Linked DNA regions of Homo sapiens: region 2 is linked to region 1. A link means that fine-mapping ties the variant in region 1 to the expression of a gene that starts in the linked region. Tissue or cell type: testis. Region 1 holds a variant in brackets; the other region holds the start of a gene. All regions are shown on one strand. Distances are between the middles of the regions.

Region 1 (5,342 bases):
CACTCTCCTTGGTGCCACCAAGGAGAATTGCAGGTGCCCCTGCCAACATCTCCCACCATCCTCAGGGTTTGTGGTGCAGTCCCATGGGGAGTGGGATTCTCCAGCTTTACAGAACCTTCAGGGAACCATCATTCAGTATCTGTCAATGCTGTACACAGTTTTTTTTTTGTTTTTTTTTTTTTTAAGATAAGGGTCTTTAGTCCCTTGTTAAGTTTTATGACTGGCAAACATTTCTCTCTCAGAATGGCAGAGTTTTGCAGGCCTGGGTGGGAGAGCACATCTAGGCAGAGACGACGTTGAAAGGTTTTCATGCCAGAGAAAGCTCAGAGTTTTGACTCCAGGGGTGTGGCTGTGAGCAATGAGGGATGTCCATGGAGAGGCTGATCCTGGTTCAGAAGAATTGGGATGGTGCTATCAGCCTGAGGCTTCTGAATCCATGGAGAGGCTGATCCTGGTTCAGAAGAAGAGGGATGGTGCTCTTAGCCCGAGGCTTCTGAAGGGAGGTATGGCTCACTGCAGCAGGGTGAGGCTTTCTAGCCCCCGAGCCAGCAAAGCACAGTGGGGAGAGTCTGGCATCCTAAGATGATGGTGGGGGCCAGTTGGCTTTTATGGCACCGTCCTAGTCTGTGCTTTTCCCGTTAGCCCTGTGACCACCTTCGTAACCCCACTGAATCGAGGCCCATGTGATTGTTTCAGGTCTGGGGAACCAAACAGCAGCCTGAAACCAGCTGGAATCTTCCCTTGGTGAGAAGGGAGAGGAAGCCCGCTGCAGCCTTTCCAGAGTGCCTCTCTCTCCCGTCCGCTTACCTCACACTCTCAGCCCAACCCTGCCTGTTTCCCAAAACCCTGTGGGAGCCCTTCTCCCAGCTCCATTCCCTCATTCCTCTAGGACTCTGCGCAGTGTCACCGCCACACTGAGAGTGCTCCTGATCCTTTTATTAGGGCTGAGGGTCACTTTTTAATCCTTCTTTTGCCTTTTTTTTTTTTTTTTTTTGACAAAGCACTCATATTTTGTTTGTCCGTCTCCCCTACTGGAATGCAATCACCCTGAGGTATGGATTTTTGACTATTTTGTTCACTGCTCTATTCTCAATGTAGGATTGTGCCCGGCACTTTGTAAATCATCAATACACATTTGCTGAATGATTAAGCAAATGCCTGGATTATGCTGATCAATTTCTCGATGTTGGATACATTTAATGTATTGACAATGGAAGTATTTTCCTGGAGTTAATGATACAATTCTCAGGAGCAATGTAATTAAGTTCGTTGCTTAAATTCTACTGGGAAACAATTCCTTAAGATCATGGTGGAAATTAAATGAAAATTAATTATTATACAAAATATTTTTAAAAGGATTCTCCAGAAAATGAAAACAAAGTTTTTCAATAATTTTATATTTATCATAAGCTATGTGCCATCTAATTTGCCTAGAAAGTTCTGTGCTAATCTATAAAAATGTCTTATTAAGTAGTTCTTTGTTGAATTTAACTTTTTTAGTTTTCATGAAAAGATATTAGGATTTCTTTTCTTTCTTTCTTTTTTCTTTCTGTAGACATGGGGTCTGGCTATGTTGGCCAGGCTGGTCTCAAACTCCTGGCCTCAAGTGATCCTCCCACCTCAGCCTTCCAAAGTGCTCGGATTACAGGCATGAGCCACCACGCTTAGCTAAGACTGCCTTTTAGATTGTTCTAGCAAGATTTATAATTTTTTCCACCAAAAATTCCTGCAAGGGCATGGGAAGATAAATTTCTAGCTCTAGTGACTGTAAGAAACAGCAGGCTGCTAAAATATTTCTGTAATGCTTATGTGTTTATTACTAAACATTTGTAAAAATTTTGTAGGTTACTCCAAAATAGACCTCTGTTTAATGTAAAAATAATATTGCAAATCACTTACCATCTGGATAAAATATTTGCTACTGCTTCACTATGTTATTTTGCAAAATACTCTTAATTATCATTAATTTCAGAAATTTCTCCTGAATTAAAGAGGTCTGATACTCCATAGAATTTTCCTCAACTTAGTGTGACAACATTTTGAAAATCTGGACTCATAAAAAAAATGGACATAAATGGCAACAGAGAGAGACTTTGAATGCCAAAAATAGGTGGCATTGGGAAATTTCAGAAGCTATTAGTATTGGTACACATTTCAGTACATATGTGACTTCACATTTCAGTACGTATCTAACTTCTTTTCTGACAAATGGTTTTGCTGTGAAACATGGATGCCTGAAAGGGCTTCAGACGCCCCAGCTGGCCCTTTTCACACTCCAGGAAATTGTGTGCTGTGGAGGAAGACAGCCCGTGCTCTCCTCTATTTTATCACCAGCACTGCAATGTTCATCACGTGAACATAAACCAAGAGTCTTAAACAAGTCATGGTTCTAACAATCAATTCTCTGGGTCCATCTCTCAGATTTCATGTTCGTTGCCAAGACCTTGAGGTGGGCTGTAAAAATAATCACAGTTTTATCTTCAGTGTGGACTAAGAAATTAATCATTGACAACATATCTGTTTAACATGCTGTTAACACAAACAGCGAATTTATCCTACCCAGATTTCTTTTTTTCTTGATGAAGAGAAATAAAAATTTAGCCTTGATGTTGAAAGCTCAGAGAAGCATATATCCTCAGCTTGGTGGAACAGCCTGTCAAAGTGGCTATTTCATCTCACTTTTTCCTAAAAGGATGATTATTCAAAGCATAGAGTTTTATTAATTACTATCCCCATCATTTTGTTCATCTTACTGAATTCACTGAGAAGGACCAAGGGCAAACTCCTTTAGGCTATCTGTACTCAGGAAATAATGCAACTTTTGCTGAAGGATTCAGCGTTTGAGACA[T/G]CCTCGAAATGGGCTTCTGGTCCTGAAGTTTTGCCATAGATTTAGACTGGAAAGTGCAGAATTTTTCAAGTATATCCTTCAAGAACATTACTATGCATCCCGTGACTGTGTGAGTAAGGGTATCTTTTTCAGCTTGGTTGCTTCTTTTTAACTCAGAGCTGATTTAGCCATATCTAAATTGCTGGGCCTCATTCTGCTAATACATAATCTTCATCTTCTAAGGCAGTTCTGCAAACTGACCTTGAGGGAAGCTTCAAGCAAACTTCATTTGCTTATTTGAGGGTGCTTTTTATTATTATCCCTGTGCAAGATCTCTCTCTCTCTTTCTTTTGGTGCAAGAAATTCTGATGATTTCTTTTCAAAATTTGCATGATTGGTTTTTAAATGTCCATCAGGAACAATGCAGGGACAGCTTAGGGGTTGCATGCAGGCAAGGTACCAAGATTTAGGCTCATTTGCATCTGCAAAATAATGAAAACCAGATTCCCAATAAGCATGTAAATGGAGGCTGAAATATTTAGTCAGGCTGCACCGGCCGTGGTGTGGCAGGTGCCACCTGGGATCGGAAGCAGACAGGTGTCTCTCGGGCTTGGCTATTATCTGTGCCACTCAATGATGTCAGGTGGATCTGAATTTCTCTAATTGCGTTTTCTAAAATTCACTGTGTTCACACTTAGGATTGGACATTCCTGTTTTTATTTATGTTGACATGTTCCCAGATGGACACATGATTGAAAATCAGCACTGGGAGACTGGCTGCTGAGGGTGACATGCCAGTGCCCAGGGAGGGCAAAACCTGCTCCGTTGACGGTGGCTTGGGGAGGGCGTGGTTGCATTTGTACTCCATATTTCCTTGTGCTGCGCAAGCTTAAATAAGCCCTTCAGTAGGTGCTGGACAAAGAGCGGGGATGGCCTAAGGAAAACGCGCAGAAAAAGAGTGCAGGAGCCACTTGGCAAACAGGTGAAAATCCTCTCCTTTCTGGGGCAGAGGTTTTCTCCGTTTCCCCCACATATCTGCCTGATTCTGCCACAGGCAGGCCCTTCAGAGAGCTCTCCCACTCCAGCAAGGGAGGCTGACTCAAAGACCTGGTGTTCTGCAGGCCCAGCATGAGGCTGGCGGTGATTCGGAAACCCACCCCCCCGCTTCCCGCTGTTCCTGTGAAAGGCCAGGAGTCGCCTCCTGTCAGTGTGTCCTTCACAAAACCCTCCCAAGACCACTCCCGGGGCTTTCTAGGGCACCTCGCAGCTGCCAAGGGACTCTTCATCCTTGCAGCTGGCTGTGTGCCAGGCAGCCCGGGCAGGCCCCAGGTAACGTGGGGAAGTAGAGGCTTGGGGAGGCTCGGGTCTCTGAGGACATCTGGGCTGTGGGGAATCCTGGTGCGAAGCCGGCCCAGTACTCGCGGAGTAACCTGGCAGCCTCTGGAGGGTGTGGAGGGCCCGGGGCCCTGGGTTCCGAAGACCCGCTCTGGCCACGTGACCTTGGCGCCCCCCGCCCCTCCTCGCCCACCTGGCTCTTCCTCAGCATCGCCTCCTGTGGGCGGCCAGGTGGGCAGGTGGGCAGGTGGGCGGCCAGGTGGGCAGGTGGGGCCTCTTGGGTGAGCCCAACACTAGTGATTCTGTTTTCAGAACTCCTTCAGACACCGCTGTGAAAACAGCACCATCACACAATCACGAATTCACATCAGGACCTGGCCTATTGCTATATGCAGAGAGATGCTGAAACCTTTCATTTTTTCTTTTTAAAATCGTAGGACTTTGCCCATTAAATCCTAAATTGCCACTAGCCAACATGGATGAAGTCTGCGAGGGATGGCACCGCCGGGCACACCTGTGTCTGGCCTGGTGGTGGGAAGGAGGTGGAGGGCCCCCGGGAAGGGGGTTCTTACCGCTGAGGAGAGGCCGGTTGTGCCGGTAGGAGGCGGGCAGCTGGCCGACACCCTCCATGCGGTGGCTCATGACGCGTGCGAGGTGGCCCGTGTGGTGCAGGCTGCCCACCACGATGCTCTGCAGGTACACGGGCTCCACGAAGTGGGACAGGAGCGCGCCCTGCAGCCCCAGGACGTTCCACCTGTGGGGAGAGCCAGCAGTCAGCGGAGCCCCACCCAGGAGCCCAGGGAGCCTGGTCCTCTCTGTCCGTCTGCGGCCTGGTCCTGAGGACCTGTCAGTCTTCCCATCGTGCGGACCTTGGGGAGCTCCCTGGGAGTGCCCCAGACCCAACCCAGCCATCACTGGGGCTCTGGGGACACTGTTGCCTGGGACTGGGCTCCACAGGCCCATGTGTGCTAACAAATGCTGCTCTCTTTTCTGAAAATGAGTCGTTAGAGTGGAAACTGTTATGTTCTCTGTGGGACTTAGAATTAGATTTTTTTAAAAAGATACTCTGTCCCAAAAGTGAATCTGAATTTTTCTTTATATTAGCTGGGAAATACTATAAATGGAATTTGTTTATTTTAGTTTAGGGAAAAATACTTAGTACTCCCTTTGTCCTTAGCAG
Region 2 (5,342 bases), 540 kb after region 1:
CGGCATGCTTTATTTCAGAGCTCACAGATCATTTTGATAAGAAGCATATCATGCCAAAGTCACTCTCAGAGTCACACATAGAAAAGGAGCCAGATGTCACCACACTGGGAAATTAAAGTTATCATGCATCTTCAAAAATGATTCTTGTCCCTTAGACTAGGTAGAAATACGCATCTGACAGGCAACAGGGTCAGCATGTATCTTAATTGTCTTTATTCCCCCATAAGAACAGCCCTTACCTTGTGCTTCTGTCAGTGTCTTCAGTTAGCACCTAATAGAGCCACACTAAATTCCTTAACAGTCTCTCATACACACGTGGATTTTAAATTGTGGCAAGTATAGAGTTTTAATATCAGATAAGCTTAAAATTGAGGTTATTCTATTCATTTATGGTTGTTAAGATTCATGACAATTAGAACATAATTTAAACTCACCATTGTTTTTATAAAATAAAAAATATCAGCATCTGTAATAACTAGGTATCATAGATGAAGTAATCAATTCCCAGGAAAATGCAAATAATTATTTAATGTGTCTCTTAGCTGGTTACTTTACCTTTTAATTTGATCAGTTACATCTACATGGTTAACGTTTCCCCAAAAATTGAATCTTTAGCCGTTTGATTTGACTTTCCTATCAAGATAGCTGCCGGCAGGTGCCCTGGGAAATTCTCCCGCACGCCAGAAATCTCTTCGTAACAGAAATCAGTGTACAAAACCTGAATGCCCTTTCCCGCTTCAATTTTTGGCTATGAAAATTAAGGGACTTGACATATTCAAAATAACCAAGGTATGGAAATATTTGCTATAGGAGTTTTATTTTGAATTGCTAAAGTTAAGTTTATAGCAAATGAAGTCTTTCCCCAGATTTCCTTTTTCCCCCTAAATTGAATACTTTCTAAGCTAGCATGACTGACGCTTCCTGGCAAGGCAAGTGAATTTGGAGAAAGGCAACACTTTCCTCCTGTTTATATTTATAAAATGCATTATTGCGAACTATTACTCCACATTCTTCAACTCTAAATATTTAAATAGACTAATCAAAAAATATTGGGAAATGTGAACATTTCAAGTGTAAAGATGATGCTTCCTTTTTCCTCTTTTAAAAGTCATATTCATTATTCAATCCGGTGACTTTCTCAATATCAATGCCACTTTGTGTTGGCATTATCTTTGGAGGACACTAACAGGTCTGTTTCAAAATGATAATTTCAAACAACAAAGTGAATCGCAAGCGCACACTTAGCAGCTGAGAGGTAAATGAGAACCACAACATCACCTCCCTTCTGAAACCAAAGGCTCCAAAACCTTTTGAGGAAGTTGTGGGGGCCAATCCCTCCCAGTGGTCCTGACGTTCGGTCATAATGAATGACTGTTTGCTATTGACATTTATGCCTGCTGACTGTCTGGATAATTTCTATTATTGGAAGAGGCAATAAAGGACCTGGTGACGGTTCGAGGGCACACAGGAAACGGTCTGGTAGAAACTTATCTTAGGCCAATGCAAAGATGAAAATTCTTCAGGAAAGATGGACAACCCCAAACACACCTAACGTTGCCTCCTGCTTTCAAACAACTGGCAAAGCTGATCAATTCTAGCTGTGTTTTTCCAACCGTTCTTTATACTTCTACCTCACTTAAAAAAAATCAGCACATTTCAAATCATGATTAGAACTGAACTTTCTCCTGCAGGCTCACTAGGAACTGACAATAACACAGGTTCCTCTAGGAGAGAAGGGTCGGCATGAGAAGAATCTTTTAATTCTTCCTGGCATGCACACAGGCTACGATGGCACTGGGGGCATTGCTCTCATATTGGAGCGATTGCTAATTTTGCAAAATCCCCAGTGTGAAAGCCCTCCCTTGCTGTAGCATTGACTAACTTCAGCGCGGCCCAGCCCCAGGAATATCAGTAACAAGGCACAGCTGAGTTTGTCAGTGGCCGCTGTCAGCCGGCTGCTTTTCCTGCTTTCCTGGTTTGCGGTTTTTTTCTACCACTAACAAAATATGATGCTTCTTTCTGTTTTCCTGTATTCATTTCTGCTTATTTCTCCAAGGACGAGCCCTGTGTTCTCTTTACGACCCAATGTTTACAAATCGACGGGCACCACATTGAGTAAAAACTGCCAGCCAATTTGGAGAGGCGATCGCAGGGCTTCGCCTATCCCTTCCTCCGGGACAGTTTGGATGGGAGTAGCTGGCGCGAGGGCTCGTTCCCCCGTTTTTGGGTAATTCCTTTGGCACTGGGAGACGAGATGGCCTCCGGAGGGTGGAAGGCAGTGCCAGCCCGGCCGGCCACTGGGGACTGCGGGGCCCGGAGACGCGCGGGGTCCCCGGGGAGCTCCTCGCCGCCCTCGCCCCACTTCGTCCGGGTCCCTCAAACATGTCGCAGCGTGGCTGCTCACTGTCCCCTCTGGGCAAGAGGAGGCCCCAGACATTTCCACGGGATCTGAACTCCCGAGCGCCCTGCACGGAGCAGCCATCCCGCCAGCACCCCAAAGTGAAGCTGCTCACAACGGACAAGCCCGGAGACCCCATGAGAGGCCGGGGTGGAGAAGCCGGGGGTGAAGGGGGGCAGGGGCCGGCGCGCCACGCGGTCCTTACCTTTCCGCTTGGACCTCCGCCTCCTCCTCCTCTTGGACTTGCATTTGAGTTGACTGCTCAGCCCTCCAGACCCTCTGCCGCTCCCCAGGACCGAGGCCATGGCCGAGACCCAGGCGCGGAGCCCAGAGCCGCCTCCCTCCTGCACCTGCACCTGCCTCCTTCCCGGCAGCCGCCGCCGCCGCTGCTGCGAAGCTTGAGGTTGCAAACCCGGGAGCGGCTCACTTTTCAGGACTGAGCAGGAAAGCGCGCTCCGTCTCTCTGTCTCTCGAATTGTTCTCTATGACTTGCTCCCACTGGGCTGGGGGCCTCGGCTGGGCGCCTGGAGCGAGCTGCTCCCTGGTCAGGGAGGGCGGGGAAGGGCGCGCGGCGTCCTGAGTGCTCCGAGCTTCCCGCGGGCTCTGCCTCCTGCTCTGGGCTCCCAGCGCAGGGAGGCTACTTTTGCGCCTCTGCTAGTTGTTTGGCACCAGCCACTTTGAAGCCAATCACGCAGGGAGCTTGTCTATTTGCTGCAGCAGCGTCTAATTAGATCCAATCACAACTGCTTTCTGGCTCTGACATCAGCAGCAGCACCAGCCGCACCGCCGCCTGGCCGCTTGCAAACTCAGCTCCCGTTTGGACGGTGAAGCTCCCAGGACCGGCGGCTGGAGGGAGGCTGCTCCCGGGGAACAAGGACGCGGCGCGGGTGCGTCTGGGAGAGACCGGGGGAGCCTCCAGGAGGGACCCTGCCCGGGAGGACGAGGCCTCCTGCCGCAGCCTCGCGGACAGCTCAGCTCGCCCTGCTCAGAAAGACACAGGGACGGGTTTTTCCAACCAACAGTTTTTAACTAGTCAATTCATTACCATGCTCCTTGTGTCAAGGGGGGGAAATACCTCTTTCAGAAATGCAGAGACCGCACTTCCTCAGAAACGGACTGAGGTTTGCAATTCCCCAGGAGACAGCGTCCTGAGGGGCATTTATTCCTCAGAGCCTGCATGCTTGTCTGTTTGCCTCTTCTTTCCCCTCTTCATATTCCTTGGCCGTTTCCAATGCAAAAGATAAATCTTGCATAAAGACAGAGGTTTTGGGATCTGAGTCTGATTTTTGCCGTCAGGAATTTCATGTGTTGCTTTATTTAGGGAACAATGACACAAAAGGAAGAGAAAGCTCTCAGCGGAGAGTTTTGTTGCCAAATGTAATATTTGGATGGAAGAAAGTAACATTTACAAAGAGGTGGATTGCACACTGAAATAGTTTTAAGCAATTTTTTTTTCCAGGAATGTCCTATGTTTCAAGATTATACTTATGGAACCCTGGAAGTCTTATGTAAAATATAAAGAGGAATAGAATCTGGTAATCATCATTGCATCTTGTATTTAAATCACATAAGCTTTTAATTACAATAGTCATGTTTTTAAAAAAATCCACTCTAAAATTCATTAGCACACATTAACATGTTGATATAAAAATGGCACACAAATATTTCTGCTATTCATTGCCTCACATGCAACCTTTTCAGCTGCTTATGTGCCTAGAAATTTCCAGATAATTTTTATCATAAGAAAAAAGAATCACTCTGGGGGACATTGGAAATAATTAGGATGATCCTGTGTTGTTATGTGCTGAGCTGATAGATCGTAGCTCAGTTTTCATTGATGAGAGAGAGTAAGACATTTGATTTCAAATCTTAACTCTACTGCTATGACCTCGGGTAAGTTAAACCGTGCCTCAGTTTCCTCATCTGTAAACTGGGGATAACAACGTCACCCACCTCATAAGTTCATTCATACTCGTTGAATCAGTATCAACCAGTATAGACAGGAACTGGAACATGTTAATTACTCTATGATTATTTATTAAATTTTTTCCAGCAAATAATTTGGAAGGAATGAGCGTATGTTGCAGACAAGCCTCAGAAAGACAGGGCTTCTGCGTTTTCCTTTTAGAATGTTGAACCTTCTAGTCCAACTCAGACTGAGGACCACAATCAAACCAACATCCCTCTTCAGGGCTGGCTTCAACAACCCTGTTCCCATGACAGCACAGCTCAGCTCTGCTGATAATTCCCAGCGAGGGTTGAGAAGGCACATAGCTCTCTCACTTCCTCTCTGCAATACCCGAGATATTTGAGTGCTTAAACTATATCGAGAAACACAGCTCTAGGACTCTGCCTGTGAAACTTCTGAGCTTCACACAATGTGCTGCACTAATCCAGAGTTGCCCTATTTCTGTATCTGCAGAAAACCCATCAGGGGGTGGAGTCACCGAAGGAAGGTGCTTCAGAAGAGCTTCACACACACACACAGCCCCCACAAGGTGGTCAGCATTTATTAATGGCCCCAATAGCTCCATCATCACACGGAGCAACCGTGCTGTCTGGGAGACTCGTATACATGAACCCTTGTTTCACTCCAAGGGCAGGTATGGTGGCCGGAAAGTAACGTGTCTGTTAAATGTTCTTCTGATGTTGGTGGAGTGGGGAAACAAAACTGAAAACTGTCTTTGAACACTTCATTTAGACCCTAATTTGAAAGTTACGATCGAAATTTTGGCAAACCTTTTTCTTGAAGTTCCTCCAATTGGTTCTTTTTTGTATAATTTATGAAAATGCTGTTTTCACAGATACTTGCTGTTTTCTGTATTTTATTTATTTTGCATAAGACGATGCATAATAGATGATGCTAGGGCGACGGCTAGGCGAGAAAGCCTTTGTTTCTCATCACAGAGGGGCTTTAAAGAAGAGGCTCGCAGCGACAAGTGCG

Evidence for each region. PIP is the estimated chance that this variant, and not a neighbour inherited with it, causes the effect.
Region 2: ADARB2 starts here. The variant in region 1 is fine-mapped to the expression of ADARB2 in testis (GTEx, PIP 0.99).

What each region holds. Positions count from the first base shown.
Region 1 is chr10:1,195,232-1,200,573 of GRCh38, forward strand. It overlaps ADARB2 (adenosine deaminase RNA specific B2 (inactive)), which reads right to left. Exons shown (of 10, transcript NM_018702.4): 8 at 4,735-4,916. Among named protein-coding and RNA genes, the nearest start is that of LINC00200, 38 kb to the left of the region's middle. The variant T/G (reference allele first, on the strand shown) is at 2,849.
Region 2 is chr10:1,734,448-1,739,789 of GRCh38, forward strand. ADARB2 (adenosine deaminase RNA specific B2 (inactive)) reads right to left here and starts at 3,078. Exons shown (of 10, transcript NM_018702.4): 1 at 2,604-3,078. The coding sequence starts at 2,703. RefSeq lists an enhancer at 2,410-3,006 and a silencer at 2,968-3,027.